Regions from separate parts of the Homo sapiens genome. Here region 2 is linked to region 1. Evidence: fine-mapped expression QTL. Tissue or cell type: spleen. Region 1 holds a variant in brackets; the other region holds the start of a gene. All regions are shown on one strand. Distances are from middle to middle.

What was found. PIP is the estimated chance that this variant, and not a neighbour inherited with it, causes the effect.
Region 2: it holds the start of DNAJC13, and the variant in region 1 is fine-mapped to the expression of DNAJC13 in spleen (GTEx, PIP above 0.99).

Annotation. Positions count from the first base shown.
Region 1 is chr3:132,566,236-132,574,502 of GRCh38, forward strand. All of the region lies in intron 17 of ACAD11 (acyl-CoA dehydrogenase family member 11), which reads right to left. The region is part of intron 42 of NPHP3-ACAD11 (NPHP3-ACAD11 readthrough (NMD candidate)); the gene reads right to left. Among named protein-coding and RNA genes, the nearest start is that of ACKR4, 27 kb to the right of the region's middle. The variant C/A (reference allele first, on the strand shown) is at 3,418.
Region 2 is chr3:132,412,909-132,420,908 of GRCh38, forward strand. It overlaps DNAJC13 (DnaJ heat shock protein family (Hsp40) member C13), which reads left to right and starts at 4,594. Exons shown (of 56, transcript NM_015268.4): 1 at 4,594-4,852. RefSeq lists silencers at 4,284-4,383, 4,664-4,803 and enhancers at 4,834-4,983, 4,923-5,458.

The DNA of each region.
Region 1 (8,267 bases):
TGAACTGGAAGATAGGACAATAGAAACAGCCCACCCTAAACCAAAGAGAGAAAACAAACTCAAAAAAACAAAAAAAAAAAGAACAGCATCATAGGAACATGTGGAATTATAACAAAAGATTTACCATTCACATCACCAGATTCCAGGAAGAAGAGAAAGAGTAAGGCTGAAAAAGTTTGAAGAAACAATGGTTGAAAACATCCCAAATTTGGCAAGAGACCTAAACCTGAAGATTCAAGAAGCTGGGTGAATCCCAAGCAGGATAAATCCTAGAAATCCATACCAACACACATCATGATTAAGTTTCTGAAAAAATAGACATAAAAAAATCTTGAAAGCACCAGAGAAAAATGACACCTTACCTATAGCAGGGATATATATATGTCAGAAGGAAGCAGCACAATATTTTTCTAGTGCTGAAAGAAAAGAAACTTATATCCAGTGGGGATATCTTCCAGGAATAAAGAAGAAATAAGACATTCTTAGAAGAAGCAAAACAGAATTTGTCACTTTTAGACCCTAAAGGAAATGTTAAAGGAAGTTCTCTAAATGGAAAGAAAAAGATAAAAGAAGAAACCTTGGAAAATCAGGAAAGAAGAAAGAACACAATAAGCAAAAATACAGCTAATAAAATTCGTTTGCTTTCTTCTCTAAAATTTTCTAAAGTATATTTGATGGTGGAGGCAAAAATTATAACCCTGATGTTGTTCTAAATGTATTTAGAGAAAATAATTAAGACAATTATATTGTTTATTTATTTAGAGACAGAGTCTCACTCTATCTCCCAGGCTGGAGTGCAGTGGCGTGATCTCAGCTCACTGCAACCTCCGCCTCCTGGGTTTAAGCAATTCTTGTGCCTCAGCCTCCCGAATAGCTGGGGTTACAGGCACACGCCACCATACCCGGCTAATTTTTGTATTTTTAGTAGAAACAGGGTTTCACCATGTTGGCCAGGCTGGTCTCAAACTCCTGACCTCAAATGATCCACCCGCCATGGCCTCCCAAAGTGTGGGATTACAGGTGTGAACTACTGCGCCAGGCCCAAGACAATTATATTATAAATGGGAGAAGTTAAAGGAACTTAAAGGAAGGTAAAATGTCTATACTTGACTCAAACTGGTAAAATGATGACACCAATAGACTTTAATAAGATCTAGAGAGAAAGGTAACTAGATAGATAGATAAACATGTATATATAATACCTAGAACAACCACCAAAACAGCTATACAAAGAGACACTCGAGAAACACTATAAATAAATCAAAATGTAGTTCTAAAAATGTTAAATTAACCCACAGGAATGCAGGAAAAGGAAAACAGAAAAACAATAACCAGAGAGAACAAACAGAAAACAAAAATAAAATATCCGATTTAAGCCCTAACATATCAGTTATTATAAAGACAAAGATTGATAAAGTGGATTAAAAATATGACCAAACTATATGTTATTTAGAAGAAATGTATATCAAATATAATGATATAGGGCCAGGTATGGTGGCATCCACAACAGGACATCTACAAAAATGCTATAGCTAACATTATACCTAACATTCCCCTAAGACAGAGAACAAGATAAGAATGTCAGTTCTCACCTCTCTTATTCAACATAGTATTGGAAGTTCTAGCCAGTGCAATAAGACAAAGGAAGGAGACAAAAAGCATGTATATCATAAAAGAATAAATAAAACTGTTCCTTATTTACAGATGACATGATTATCTATGTAAAATCCCAAGCAATCTACAAAAAACTCCTAGAACTAATAAGTGAGTTCAGCGAGGCCACAGGGTATGAGATAAACATACAACATGGTGAAACCCTGTCTCTACTAAAAATACAAAAAAATTAGCCAGGTGTGGTGGCAGGCACCTGAATCCTAGCTACTTGGGAGGCTGAGGCTGGAGAATCGCTTGAACCCAGGAGGCGGAGACCGCAGTGAGCCAAGATCATGCAATTACACTCCAGCCTGGGCAACAACAGTGAAACTTCATCTCAAAAAAACAAAACAAAAAAACTATACTTCCATATACTAGTAATAGACCCTGAAATTAAAAACACAATACTTATTATAATTGCTCAAAACTGAAATACTTATGTATAGGACTTGTATGCTGAAAACTACACACAGATGAGATGATGTGTGTAGATGATGAAAGAAACCAAGGAAAAGCTAAATAAATGGAGAGATATACCAGGTTCACAGAATAGAAAACTCCACATAGTAAAGATATCAATTTTTCTTAATGTTTGCAGATATAGACAAGATTATTTTTAAATTATATGCAAAGGCAAAGGAACCAGAATAGCTGAAACACTTTTGAAAGAGAAGTCTAAACTGAGAGGAATCAGCCTAGCTTATTTGAAGACTGACTATGTAACCACAGTAATCAAGACTGTGCAGTGTTGGCAGAGACTGACGCATAGATAATTAAGACAGAAGAGACAACCCATATATAAACCCACACAAATAATGTCTGACTGATTTTTGAGAAAGGCACAAAAACAATTCAATGGAGGAAACATAGCTTTTTCAAAAAACGTTGCTGAAGCAATTGGACATCCACAGGCAAAAAAAAAAAAAAAAAAAAAAAAAAGAAGCTTGACCTAAGTTTCATACAAAAGTTAACTCAAAATGTAAGCAGACACAAATGTAAAATGTGAAACTTTTAGTGACACATTATGGGAGAAAATCTTCAGAATATAGGATTCGGCAGAGTTATTAGACTTGACACCAAAAGCATGACCCACATAAGCAAAAATTGACAAATTAGAGTTCATTAAAATTAAACACTTTTGTTCTGTGAACGACCCTGTTAAGAGGATGAAAAGACAAGATACAGAGTAGGAGAAAATATTTACAAACTACATATCTGACAGGATAGTATCTAGAATATATAAAGAACTCTCAAAATTCAAAGTAAAAAAAAAGTGATCTAGGACATGGACACAGGACATGAACCAAAGAGGACATAAGATGGCAAATAAGCACATGAAAAGATGCTCAACATGATTCACCAACAGGGCAACTGAGATTAAAGCCACAATGAGATATCACTACAAACCCATCAGAATGGCTAAAATTAAAAAGTAGTGACAACACCATATGCTGGAGGGGATGTGGAGAAACTGAATCACTCATACACAGTTAGTGAGAATCAAAAATAGAAAAGCTCAGCAGTTTCCAAAAAAAACTAAACATGCAACTACCACATGACACAGTAATTGCACTCGTGGGCATTTATCTCTGAGAAACGAAAAATTATATTTACACAAAAGCCTACACAAATGTTTACAGCAATTTTATTTGCAATAACCCAAACCTGGAAACAACCCAGATGTCCCTCAACAGGTAAAAACAGTTAAACAAACTGTAGTATATCCAGACTAAGGAATACTACTGAACAATAAAAATGAACCAA[C/A]TACTGATAAACACAACCTAGATAAATCTCCGAGAAATTATGTTGAGTGAAAACAGCCAGTGTCAAATGTTTTCATATTGTATGACTCCATTCTTGGAATGACAAAATTGTAAAATGAAGAACAGATTAGTGGTTGCCAGGAGTTAATGAGAAGGTTGGGGTGGAAGCAAAGTAAATGTGGCTATAAAAGGGCAACATGAAGGATCCTTGTAGTGAATGGAATGCTCTGTATTCTGACTATATTCATGACAACATCCTGGTCCTGATACTATATTCTAGTTTTGCAAGATGTTACCATTGGGGAAACTGGGCAAAGGATTCAAGAGATCTATATGTTATTTCTTATACCTGTATGTGAAACTGTAATTATCTCAAAGTGAAAAGTTGAATTTAAAAATTGGTACTTGCTTCTTGTTTAGCTTAGAAAACATTCTGTGAGTTTTCCCAATTTGTCAGAACTTGTAAGAGAAGCAGGGAGGTAAGTGGAAAAATATGAAAATCAAACCTCACCATAAGTCCCACAGGCAAGCAAACATTCAGAATTCTGCAATGAAACCCAGGAGGCATACAAAACGTGTCCAGCAGGCTCTAAGGAGTTTTTTGGTTTCCAATTCTAAACACAGAATTGAGTTGGTCCAAGTGTTGTGGGTTACTGTTAAGCTAAACACAGAATTGGTTTCCAATTCTAAACACAGAATTGGTGTTTACAATGGAGAAAAATGTTCATCAAGATGAGTTAAACCAGCAGACAATTACGGTGCTTTGATTCGAGCCATATTAACCTTCCATACCTGTGTTTTCCAGATTATATTTACATTTTATTTTATTTTTTTTCTGATGGTAATCATATCTTTTTTATTTACTTTTAACTTTTAAATTCGGGATACATGTGCAAGTTTGTTATATAGATAAACTCGTGCCATGGGGGTTTATTATACAGATTATTTCGTCACTCAGGTATTAATCCTAGTACCCATTAGTTATTTTTCCCGACCCTCTCCCTCCTCCCACCTTCCACCCTCTGGTAGGCTACCATGTCTGTTATTTCCCTTTATGTGTCCATGTGTTCTCATCATTTAGCTCCCACTTATAAGTGACAAAATGTGGTATTTAGTTTTCTGTTCCTGCGTTAGTTGGCTAAGGATAATGACCTCCAGCTCTATCCATGTTCCCACAAAAGAAATCAACTTATTCTTTTTACGGCTGCATAATGTTCCATGGTGTTTCTGTACCACATTTTCTTTATCCAGTCTATCATTGATGAGCATTTAGGTTGATTCCATGTCTTCACTATTATGAATAGTGCTGTACTGAACATACACACGCATGTGTCTTTAACGTAGAATGACTTATATACCTTTGCGTATATATCCAGTAATGGAATTGCTGGGTCAAATGGTATTTCTGTTTTAAGTTCTTTGAGGAATCCTCACACTGTTTTCCACAATGGCTGAACTCCCACCAACAGTGTATAAGCCTTCCTTTTTCTCCACAACCTCACCAGCCCAGCATCTGTTATTTTTTAATAACAGCCATTCTGACTAGTGTTAGATAGTATCTCACTGTGGCTTTTTTTTTATTTGTATTTCTCTAATGATCAGTGATTTTTAGCTTTTTTTCACATGCCTGTTGGCCACATGTCTGTCTTCTTTTCAAAAGAGTCTGTTCATGTCTTTGGCCTACTTTTTAACGGTTTTTTTTTTTTTTTGTAAATTTGTTTAAGTTCCTTATAGATGTTGGATGTTAGACTTTTGTCAGATGCAAATAGTTTGCTAAATTTTCTCCAATTCTGTAGGTTGCCTATTTACTCTGTTGATAGTTTCTTTTGCCGTGCAGAAGCTCGTTAGTTTAATTAGATTGCATTGATCAATTTTTGCTTTTTTTGTAATGGCTTTTGGCATCTTCATCATGAAATCTTTGCCCATTCCTATGTCCAGAATGGCATTGCGTAGGTTGTCTTCCAGGGTTTTTATAGTTTTGGGTTTTACAGTTAAGTCTTTGATCCTCAACAAAATACTGGAAAACAGAATCCAGCAACACATCAAAAGGCTTATCCACCATGATCCAGTAGGCTATATCCTTGGGATGTAAGGTTGGTTCAACATTTGCAAATCAATAAATCTGATTCATCACATAGAACTAAAGACAAAAACCACTTGATCATCTCAATAGATGCAGAAAAGGCTTTCAATAAAATTCAACACCTCTGCTAAACTTTTCTGTTAAAAACTCTCAATAAACTAGGTATTCGAGGAACATACCTCAAAATAATAAGAGCCATCTATGACAAAACCACAGCAAACATCATACTGAATGGGCAAACACTGGAAGCATTCCCCTTGAAAACTGGCACAAGACAAGGATGTCCTCTCTCACCACTCCTATTCAACACAGTATTGGAAGTCCTGGGCAGACCAATCAGGCAAGAGAAATAAATAAAGTGCATCAAAACAGGAAGACAGAAAGTCAAACTATCCCTGTTTGCAGAAGACATTATTCTATATCTAGAAAACCCCAGTCTCAGCCCTAAAGCTTCTTAAGCTGATAAACAACTTCAGCGAAGTCTCAGGATACAAAATCAACAAACAAAAATCACTAGCACTCCCCGAGAGCCAAATCGGGAATGCAATCCCATTCACAGTTGCCACAAAAAGAATAAAATACCTAGGAATAGAGCTAACCAGGGAGGTAAAAAATCTTTACAAGGAGAACTACAAAACAGTGCTCAAAGAAATCAGAGATGACATAAACAAATGGAAAAACATTCCATGCTCATGGATATGAAGAATCAATATCATTAAAATGACTATACTGCCTGGGGCAATTTATAGATTTAATGCTATTCCTATCAAGCTACCAATGACACTCTTCAAAGAACTAGGAAAAACTATTTTAAAATTTATATGGAACCAAGAAAGAGCCCAAATAGCCAAGGCACTCCTAAACAAAAAGAACAAAGCTGGAGGCATAATGTTACTTGACTTCAAACTATACTACAAGGCTACAGTAACCAAAACAGCATGGTACTGTTACAAAAACAGGTACATAGACCAATGTAACAGAGAGCCCAGAAATGGGGCCACATACCTACAACCATCTGATCATTGACAAAGGTGACAAAAACAAGCAATGGAGAAAGGACTCCCTTATTCAATAAATGGTGCTGGGATAACTTGCTAGCCATCTGCAGGGGATTGAAACTGCGCACCTTCCTTACATCTTAGCCATTTTTTTGACGTTTAATTGTCCTTTTATTTTCCTTTCTTTTCTTCTTTATTATTTTAAGTTCCGGGATACAAGTGCAAAATGTGTAGGTTTGTTACATAGGTATACAGGTGCCATGGTGGTTTGCTACACTTATCTACACGTCATCTAGGTTGTAAGCCCTGCATGCATTAGCTATTTGTCCTAATGCTCTCCCTCTCCTTGCCCCCACCCTCCAACTGGCCCCGGTGTGTGTTGTTCCCCTCCCCATGTCCATGTGTTCTTATTGTTCATCTCCCCACTTATGAGTGAGAACATGCACACCTTGGCCATTTTTATGCTTGGTCATGTTTGCCCTTCAACAGGGGATATTTGATTAGAGTTTCCCTAAAGCGGTGATGTTCAACATGATAGCTACTAACCATATGTGGCTAATGAGCATTTGAAACATACCTAGTCTGAACTGAGATGTACTATAAGTATAAAATATGCACCCCATATTGAAGAATAAATATTAAAATATAAAGTATCTCATTAATAATTTTTATATTGATTTCATGTTGAAATAGTATTTTTGATATATTGGGTTAAATAAAATATATTATTAAAATTAATTCCATCTTTTTCTTTTCACTTTTTAAAAATGTTGCTATTAGAACATTTAAAATAACATTTAAGGTTCATAGTATATTTCTTTTGGATGGCACTGCCCTAGAGGTTGAAACATGGCTCTGAATTAATTTCAAACAAGTTGCTGGTGGTGAATAAATATTTTTTGATGGCTGTAAAACAGGATAATTACAACTTTATAACTTCATGAACAGACTTAGAAGACATTTACTTCTCAGCTTTAGAATAAAGGAGGTATTCTCAGTTGGGTCTCTATAGACCCTAGATTTGCTGAAAAGCATTAAATGGGTAGAAACTAGGTGCTCTAGGGAACTGCCAAATATATTTCCTAAGACAGAACTGGGATGGAGAATTTTTTGCGTTACAGCCTGGAGTAAATTAGAAGGCAGCTGGAAGGAGCCTCCAAATTCAAAGAAATGAAATGTTCCTTTCACAAATTAAAATAAAAAAGCTGGCCCAGATTTTTGCTTATGACATGCTCACACATCTTTTTGTTTCTGCCAGATCACGTTATTTGTGCCAGATGTGAAAAGTTTCCAGTGAAAACAGGCATATTTGTTAAAAAGCCAGGCTTGCTCTGCATGACACATTAACTTTAAAAGGTGGAAGGGAAATTTTTTACTAATGCAGTATTAAAACACCACTCAGGAAAGCAGCACTTGCACAGAGGGCTTTTGTGCATTCGCGATGCTTGTTTGTCGACTTTACTGTGTCCTCCCTTCACCCTGCTCCAGAGTTTGCATGCAAGCTTGACAAAAGGGTAAGAAGTAATGGTTGGTGCCCTGAGCACCTCTTCATCCTTCTTCAACAGCATCAGAGGCTGTATCCAGGGCCCCAGAGGGTCACACTTTCTCACCTCCTCCCACAGTGCCCAGCCAACAGCTGAACTTTGCTGTATACTAAAAACTTGCCTTCGCTGTATACTAAAAGGGCTCCTGACAAATTATTCCCAGGTGTAGTGTCATAAAGCGGGCTGTAGCTTTTCAGTTAAAAAACTATACAAATAAATCATATAA
Region 2 (8,000 bases), 150 kb before region 1:
TCAGCAGTGTATATATTGTAAAAGAGCAGTTGTGGTAAAATTTAATAAGGAAAAAGAACACAGGCCTTTTTCTTAACCAGTTAAAATTTCAATAATAGTTTAAAATTGTTAGACCACAGAATAAGTTATTTTCTTTTCCCTCCTCATCCATCTTTGAAAATATAATCAAATCTAGATAATTTCCTGTAATTAAATGAAAGCATGTTTTTGTTAATAAAATATTATAAATTCAAAATCCTTTATATATGAACATCATTATACTATTTAAAAAGATATTTTAATTCACATTAATAATAAAACTAGACTTCCTGGGGTAGGATTAAGTGAGCTGGGGAAGCCAGGCTATCAGTTACAAAAAAAAAAAATTGTGGATCCTATATATATATACAGATACATATGTATATATGTCAAGAAATTCTCATGTCATAATTTGTCATATGTTGTAAATAATTTCAATTATTTGAATTACAGTATAGAGAAACACAGAAAACTAAATACGTGTGGCCAGATAAATCTTGAGAAAAACCACTAAAGACAAACAACCAACCAATCACATAACAAATTAAAATGAAGTCCAGTAGAAGATTCTGTGGAAGCTTCAAGCTCACCAACTCGACGTAGTTGTTTTCTGACACTTACTGTTTGCTTGCACAAGATTTTCTAATAGCAGTATTGTCCAAGAGAAATACAATGGGAGCCATATATTTAATTTTACATTTACTAGTAGCTACATTCCTTAAAAGAAACAAGTGAAATTAATTTTAATAACATTTTATTTAACCAAATATACAGCCATAATATTATCATTTCCACATGTGACAAAGAGTCTTTGCTCAGCCAAATTTTAATCAGGCTTCTGAACCTTTCCTTAGGCCCCTCTGTGTGCTTCCTTGAAAAGTCTAGTCTGCAAAAGAACCTGGCTAAGTCAGTTTAGCCAAAATTCCCTCGATATGTGATCAGATTCCTCATCTTTCACCTTCCCCCAGAAGATGTCTAATCACTCTGGCCTGTCTTTAGCAAGAATCCTGTTACGTAGGTTTAGCCAGGATCCCCGCTCACCCCTGATGTTTTCTCTTAGTAATTTTCCATCCACTGACCCCCACACACTGTTCCTTGGAGATAAATGCATACTTGCCCGTGTCGTTTTCCGACCTGAGCCCCGTCTCTCTCCCTTACTGCAAGCCCCTGTTGCAGTGGCTCCTGTACCTATTGTAATGATCGTAAATAAACTGAATAAAATCTTTTTTGTGGGGAGCAGGGGGTACAGGGTCTTTCTCTGCTGCCCAGGCAGGAGTGCAGTGGCACAATTATAGCTCACTGTAACCTCGAACTCCTGGGCTCAAGAGATCCTCTCACCTCAGCCTCCTGAGTAACTAGCACTACAGGGGCATGCCCCCATGCCCAGATAATGCTTTTATTTTTATTATTTTGTAGCAATGGGGTCCCACTACATTGCATAGGCTGGTCTCAAACTCCTGGCCTCAAGTGATCCTCCTGACTTGGCCTCCCAAAGCCTTGGGATTACAGGTGTCAGCCATCATGCTCAGCCTATTACCAAGCTTTAACAAGTATCATTAAATAATACTTTTTTTTTTTTTGAGAGTTTCACTCTTGTTGCCCAGGCTGGAGTGCAGTGGCACCATCTCGGCTCACTGCAACCTCCCCCTCCCAGGTTCAAGTGATTCTCCTGCCTCAGCATCCCGAATAGCTGGGATTACAGGTATGCACCACCAGGCCCGCCTAATTTTTTTATATTTAGTAGAGACGGGGTTTCATCATGTTGGCCAAGCTGGTCTCAAACTCCTGACCTCAGGTGATCCACCCGCCTCAGCCTCCCAAAGTGCTGGGACTACAGGCGTGAGCCACCGTGCCCGGCCTAAATATTTTTTTCTTTTAACACGTGTAATCAATATAAAAATTGCTAATGCAACATTTTACATTTTTTTGTAACAATTTTAATTTTTATTCTGTGTTCAGTAGCCACATAGGGCTAGTGGCTACTGTACTGAAAACATAGTTCAAGCATTGTTGAGTGGTATGAGTTCTTAAGGATTTACTTTGGATCTGGGCATTGATATAATTAGGAAGGTCAATTTAGCAGCAATGGGAATTAGATAAGCAAGTGTTTGACATTCTTGTGGGCTCTCTAAAGTCTTAGATCACTCCAGCCTTGTATGCTAACTTTGGAGACTGATAAAGGCTATTGGTGCCTAAAAGGCTGTGAAATGTATTTTTTAAAAAGCTGTGAAATATTTTAAGTGTACATCACATAATTTAGATTGTAAATTTGATACATCTGCACTATGAAAGTGTCAGAAACGCTAGTGCAAACTTTAATTATGAATAAAAAGACAAATCCAGAAAAAGAAGTGTGCATTTGTCACTCTTAAAAAAGAGTTGGGTGGGGAAAGGATCCAACTGATTTAACCTAATAGGGAAAGAAGAGACAAGTCCTACTCTCCCTGACTCTTGTATTTTGTTGTGGCATTTTAAGAAGGATCCAATTGTATGGATCCAATTAAAAGCAACCAGTGGTTGTGAAAAGGCTTGAAACTACATCTTGTGAACAATGGTTGAAAGTACTTTGAATATGGTTTCTTAAAATGAGTATCTGTAGCAGGGGTAGTTAGAAGGATATGCACGGGAGAGGGAGTGGGAAAGGGTGATAAGCTGTACTGATAAGTGCTTAAATGAATGTCACATACAAGAAGAAAAGAGCAAGAAACAAAGACAAAATAACTACTCATAGAAGAGAGTGCAAGTTGGCTGAATACAAGGAAAATGGCTTATAAAAATGCAATGGAAAAAGATGTCTTGTGAGGCAATTTTGCACTACAGAGGATGGGGACAATTCATGATGCCTAAGGCTCCTCTCAACACGAGAATTGATTTTATTGGTCTCAAATATTGAACAGAGAGGCAGTGTGGAGGTTGAACAGTTCACTGGCCTTGATGTTACAGGCAGGCCCTGTGTCTTAATCTTGGCTCAACCTTTAGGAGTTAGGTCACCTTTAGCAAGTCTCCTGGACTCTCTGGGTCTGCTGCTTCTCTAAAATCGAAATAATATACCCCACATTTACTTTTGGGATTACTGGAAGGCTTTGTAACCACATAAACACGTTTCTGTTTCCATGGGATAAGCCAATAAGGCCCCTTAACACAGCCCTCCTGTTTCTTTTTCCTCCTCCTCCCTTCCTACTCTATTTCGGGTTCTGTCTTCCCACACCCAGCTATTCCTAGTACCTTCCCTTACATGCACCTTATCTTACTGCTGCATTACAGAAAAGTCTAAGGATAAACACAAATAGTCTTTTTCCGCCCTAAGGTAGGGCAAAGGGTTAATAGAATCAAGAGGTAAAGTCTGTAAAAACCATTTTTCCACATTTTTTCATCCTGCAATCGCTGTCTATAAAATGAGCCAACTTGCTGAAGGGGACGCCAAGAAATCACAATTTCAGGACTGCCATGAAGAATGAGTATTCAACTCCTTATCAGAGACCTTTAACCCTTATACAATAATGTATCCATGCAGGTCACCCTACACTGCCTCTACTCTGAAGTCTGCAGCAGAATCACTATTTTTTTTTTAATCACTAATTTTTAAACTGTGGTCTTTACGGCTCAGATCTGGGAGTGGACATTGACCTTTCTTATTTAAACCATTGCCCACAGATAACACATAATTTCTAGCCGAATCCTTTAGTCCCAATATCCCCTCTTTTCACTGCCCTGACTTCCCTCTCAGGTGAGGTTCAGGAAGATGGTTATCTAGAGGGCACAGGTTCTGGGTTCAAATTACTTGGGTGCAAACATGAAATCCACTACTCTGAGGCTGGGCCTCAACTTATCTGCAAAACGAGGATGATTCGTATCTCAGAGAGTTGAAGATTAAGCAGCTTTAAGTAAACTTCTAAACACTTGATCCGGACACAATAAATGGGGCTACCAGAACTATCTTTCCAGCATTCCCACCTGCAAATGCCTTAGGCGTCTCTGAGAATTTGGTCTCTGAGACCTTCCAGAGCATCCATAACTTAAACCCTGCTCTGCTGTCGTTCAGGACGTCTCAATAGTAAATGAACCTGCTGGCTCCCAATCCAGCCAAACCAGGAGATAGGCTGAGGCTTCAGACTGCCTCGCAGATGCTCCATGGCACTTGACGGCAAGAGCTAAAAAGAGGTGATTTAAAACAAGATTTCCTCGGACTTAAAGCTTAAGTACCGGGTTGCGACCCTACTCTCCGCAGGACATAAGCGGAGGGGCGCGGCCCTAAGGCACACGCCGGAGGGGCGTGGTCATGGGCACCCGCCGGAGGGGCGTGGTCATGGGCACCCGCGCGCGCCCAGGGGCGTGTCCTTTTCAGCACCCACCGAGGCGCCAGCCCCCTGACGCGCTGCGTGGAATCCAAATCCCACGGCCGGTGTCGTTACTCTGCGCATGTGTAGCTGCTGGGGGCTGGCCGGAGGAAAGCAGAATTTCAGGGAAAGAACGATCGGGACGGGGAGGACGGGGAGGGCGGGGCAGAAGACGGAAGAGTTGAAATCAGCTGACTGGGTCTCGTGACAGCCTGGGCGGTGGCGACGCAGGCGTATTAGAGCGCGCTCGCTCAAAGCCTGAGCGAAGATGGCGGCCTCCAGAGTGAAACTCTGAGAGGCAGAGGGAGGAGGCGGAGGGGGCGGGGAGGCAGCGCCGCGGCGGCACCAGGAACCCGCGGCAGCGGAGCTGCAGGGCCCCGGCGGGGGAAAGGGGAAGTGGTGAGGGTGAGGAGGCCGGAGGGCGCCTCATCCCACTCTGGAAGCTGAGCCGGCGGCGGGAGGAGCTAGGGCTGGAGCCTCTCCAGCCTCCCGCGAAGGTAAAGCCGACTCCGGGCACTGGGCTCTGGGGCTCTGCCTTACTCCCTTCCCACGCCGTGGGGACTTTGTGGGGCTCAGGGCAGGGAAAACGGGGTGGTCTTGGCTGCTGCAGCCTGCAGCTGCTAAGGAAGCAGATTACCCTTCCCCCAGGCTGCTGGTCTGGTTCCTTTCGTTGGACGCCCCCCCGGCTTTGAGTGACATTAGCTCAGGGCGCTGCCCTGTCCAGCCCCACCCCTTTTTTTTGCTTGTTTTATACCTAGTACGCTCCTCCACTCGCCTTAACATATCCTTACCCCACAGGCTCTTCATTCCCTTGTGGGTTCCGCCCTCGGGATTCCCTTCCAGTCTCCTAGTCTGAGCACCCTTCCTGCTGGATGCCGGCAACTCTTGTTTCCTTGGGTCAGCGACCCTCCTTCCGAACAAGTCCTGCAGACTGACTTTCTTTGCTTTGTTTCGTTTTGTTAGGAAATGAGCATCCGCGTCGTCTGTTCTCCAGTACTTTTTCTAAAATCATTTTCTCCCCTAAGGCTTTTCCTTCCTGCAAGGCAGCTTATTCACGTGGCCTTTCCTCCGCTGCTGTGATTTTATCTTTGAATGTGGCCTTTGGAGTGGGTAAAGTAGGACTTAGACGCTCAGTGAAGTGGCTGTTAATCACTTGATACTTAACTATGTTTAAGAGTGCCTTCCCTTAAATTTTCTCCTTTTGTAGCGTGTTCCGTTAACCACGTTTGTCTTAAGATTGTTTCCTGTGTCCGTTGCTTAGAGGGGGGAAAAAAGTAAAGATTTCACCCTAATGTGGCGGTGGTCTCCCAAAGTAATTATTTCTCATTTTCCCTCTGCTTTTCCCTTTTACGTTATTCTGATTTCCCTCAAAAAGGAGGTTCTGTACCTGATGCTGTTGCGTCCTCTATGAAGGGCTTTATAGTGTACAGTTATGTTGAGCCTTTTGTAATACAGTGTCTTGGGGAAAAAAGTAGAAGTTCAGAACCTGCCCCCAGTAATTCTTTCTTACTATATTTTCTTTCTCAGTTTATGGACTTGATAGGTTTCTAGGTTTGAAACTACTGCCTGCAGGGAAAATTACAGTGATAAGGTTTTATAATATATTACCAGTACTTTGAGTTTATGGGAGTATGAAACAGAATTTGCCTTAAAAAAATAAATTTATAGAAACCACTTGTCAGAAATTCGGTATCCAGAACACAGTTCTTTGATTTTTGGAAAGTACTTTATTGGCTTATCTATCATATAACGTAAAACCTTGTTCACATTTTGTGTAATGTGAAACGCTTTTTAAGCTACTATATCTCAGACTTGGCTTGTGCTGTTAGTATCACAATGCATTCAGGCAACACACGTCCTTGTGTAGAAATTATTACATTATACTCCTTGTTTGAAAACAGGAAGTAGAACATATTAAGGGAGGAAAAGAGGAGTCAGAGGATTATTAAGAAATAAGAATGTAAAGAACCTTAAGGCTAGAGTTCAGTTCATGGAAAATATCAGCATTTGTATTCCACTGAGAGGCAATGAATATTCCTCTTTTTCTAAAGTGGTAGTAATAAATAGTCTAAAATATATTAATGTTATATATTGTTAACAAGCTTAGTTGTAAACAAAATACTTAAGCTAAAAAATAAAATATTAATAAGTGAATGAATTGTTTGGAATAATTTAACTTTATCCACAAATAAATAGAAGATGGTTGCCTTGCCCAGGTGGACTGTAACAATACTGGCTTTATTAAATTTGTTAAAAGGTTGATAGTGGAGTCCGGTTCTCAATAGGTCCCAAATTAGGGTTGAAATTGAAAAGATGTGTTTTAACTAATTTGGCTTCATTCCTCAACCAGTTCTGTTTACACAGGTGAATATGAGGTTTCTGCTACACATACCTTTCCCCTGCTTCTGATTGAGGTACTTTAAATTAGTAATTGAAACAAGGCTGTGCAGATAAACTGCAGCACAAATTTGGTTGCTACAAATAGGTTTTGGCCTAAATGTTCACTGTAAAACATGGCAGTAGTTAAAGGGGAGTTATTAATATTTTGAAAGAGTTCCTTGAGTCAGTGTTTCTCAACTTTATTAGACCCAATAAAGGCTCCCTTTTTATAAAAAATAATTAGTAACACCTTCTTTGCTATCTTTAGTTTATAAATAATGTAACTACCTCTGGCTTTGGCCCTGAGACAAAAAAAGAAGCTTTGCTCTCACTTCTGCAACAAAAAAAGACCTACACTACAAATTCATGACTTTTTTGAAATCTATTAAAGAGCTGAGTCCACAGAGCAAAACCACTGGCTGAAAATTTGAGAGACAGTGCTTACAGAGAGTAGATGTCAATTTCTGTTTACCGTCTTCAGACACAACTGGACAAAAAGCATGATGAAAGCTGAATGCACAATCTTGCAAACTCTTATCCACAAACCTCCCTGGGTCTACTAGAAAAGACTGGAAAGAACCCTGGGTGAGTCTGCTGTGCAGATTGAGAGGGAGAGGAACAGCAACAGAACTTTTAAGAGGGTCAAGAAACTGCTGTGATTCTTCCCCTCTGCCTCTTCTATGGAAAAAAGCTTTAATCTCTGGGGAGAAGGGTATCTCTGTTGGCCCCATTGGTGAACATTCAGGGGGTAGATGAGAAGTGGGAGAGAATCTTATGCCTGGAGGAGGGGCCCTGAGCCCAAAACTGCAGTCGGGAGTGGTCAACAGAACCGAGAGTGCTGCCCTCCTGAGATTCAGGAACACAGTGTTTGACTTAGACTTAATCAGAACATCAGACTGTATCCCCCACCCCCAACCCCCTGCCACCAAGCTAAGAAGCTTTCAGTAACAAGTAACCCACAAAATACTACTAGGAAAGGAACAAGATTATGCAAAGAGGCACAACACAAAGAATCAAACAGGCATTGCTCTAGTAAACCATCGCCCACCAGAGAGACAAACTGTTCTGCAGATTCATGAAGGCTGTAATACACTGAGGATAACTATGGCAAAAACAAATCATAAACTAAGTCCAACTCCTAACCAGATTAACACAAACCCTTCACCAAAGGCCTCACAAAGAACAGGCGTGCTCATTTCCAGTCATAAAAATTACCTCAATCTCTACTCCTACACAACATGTCCAGCTTTTAACCAAAAATTATGA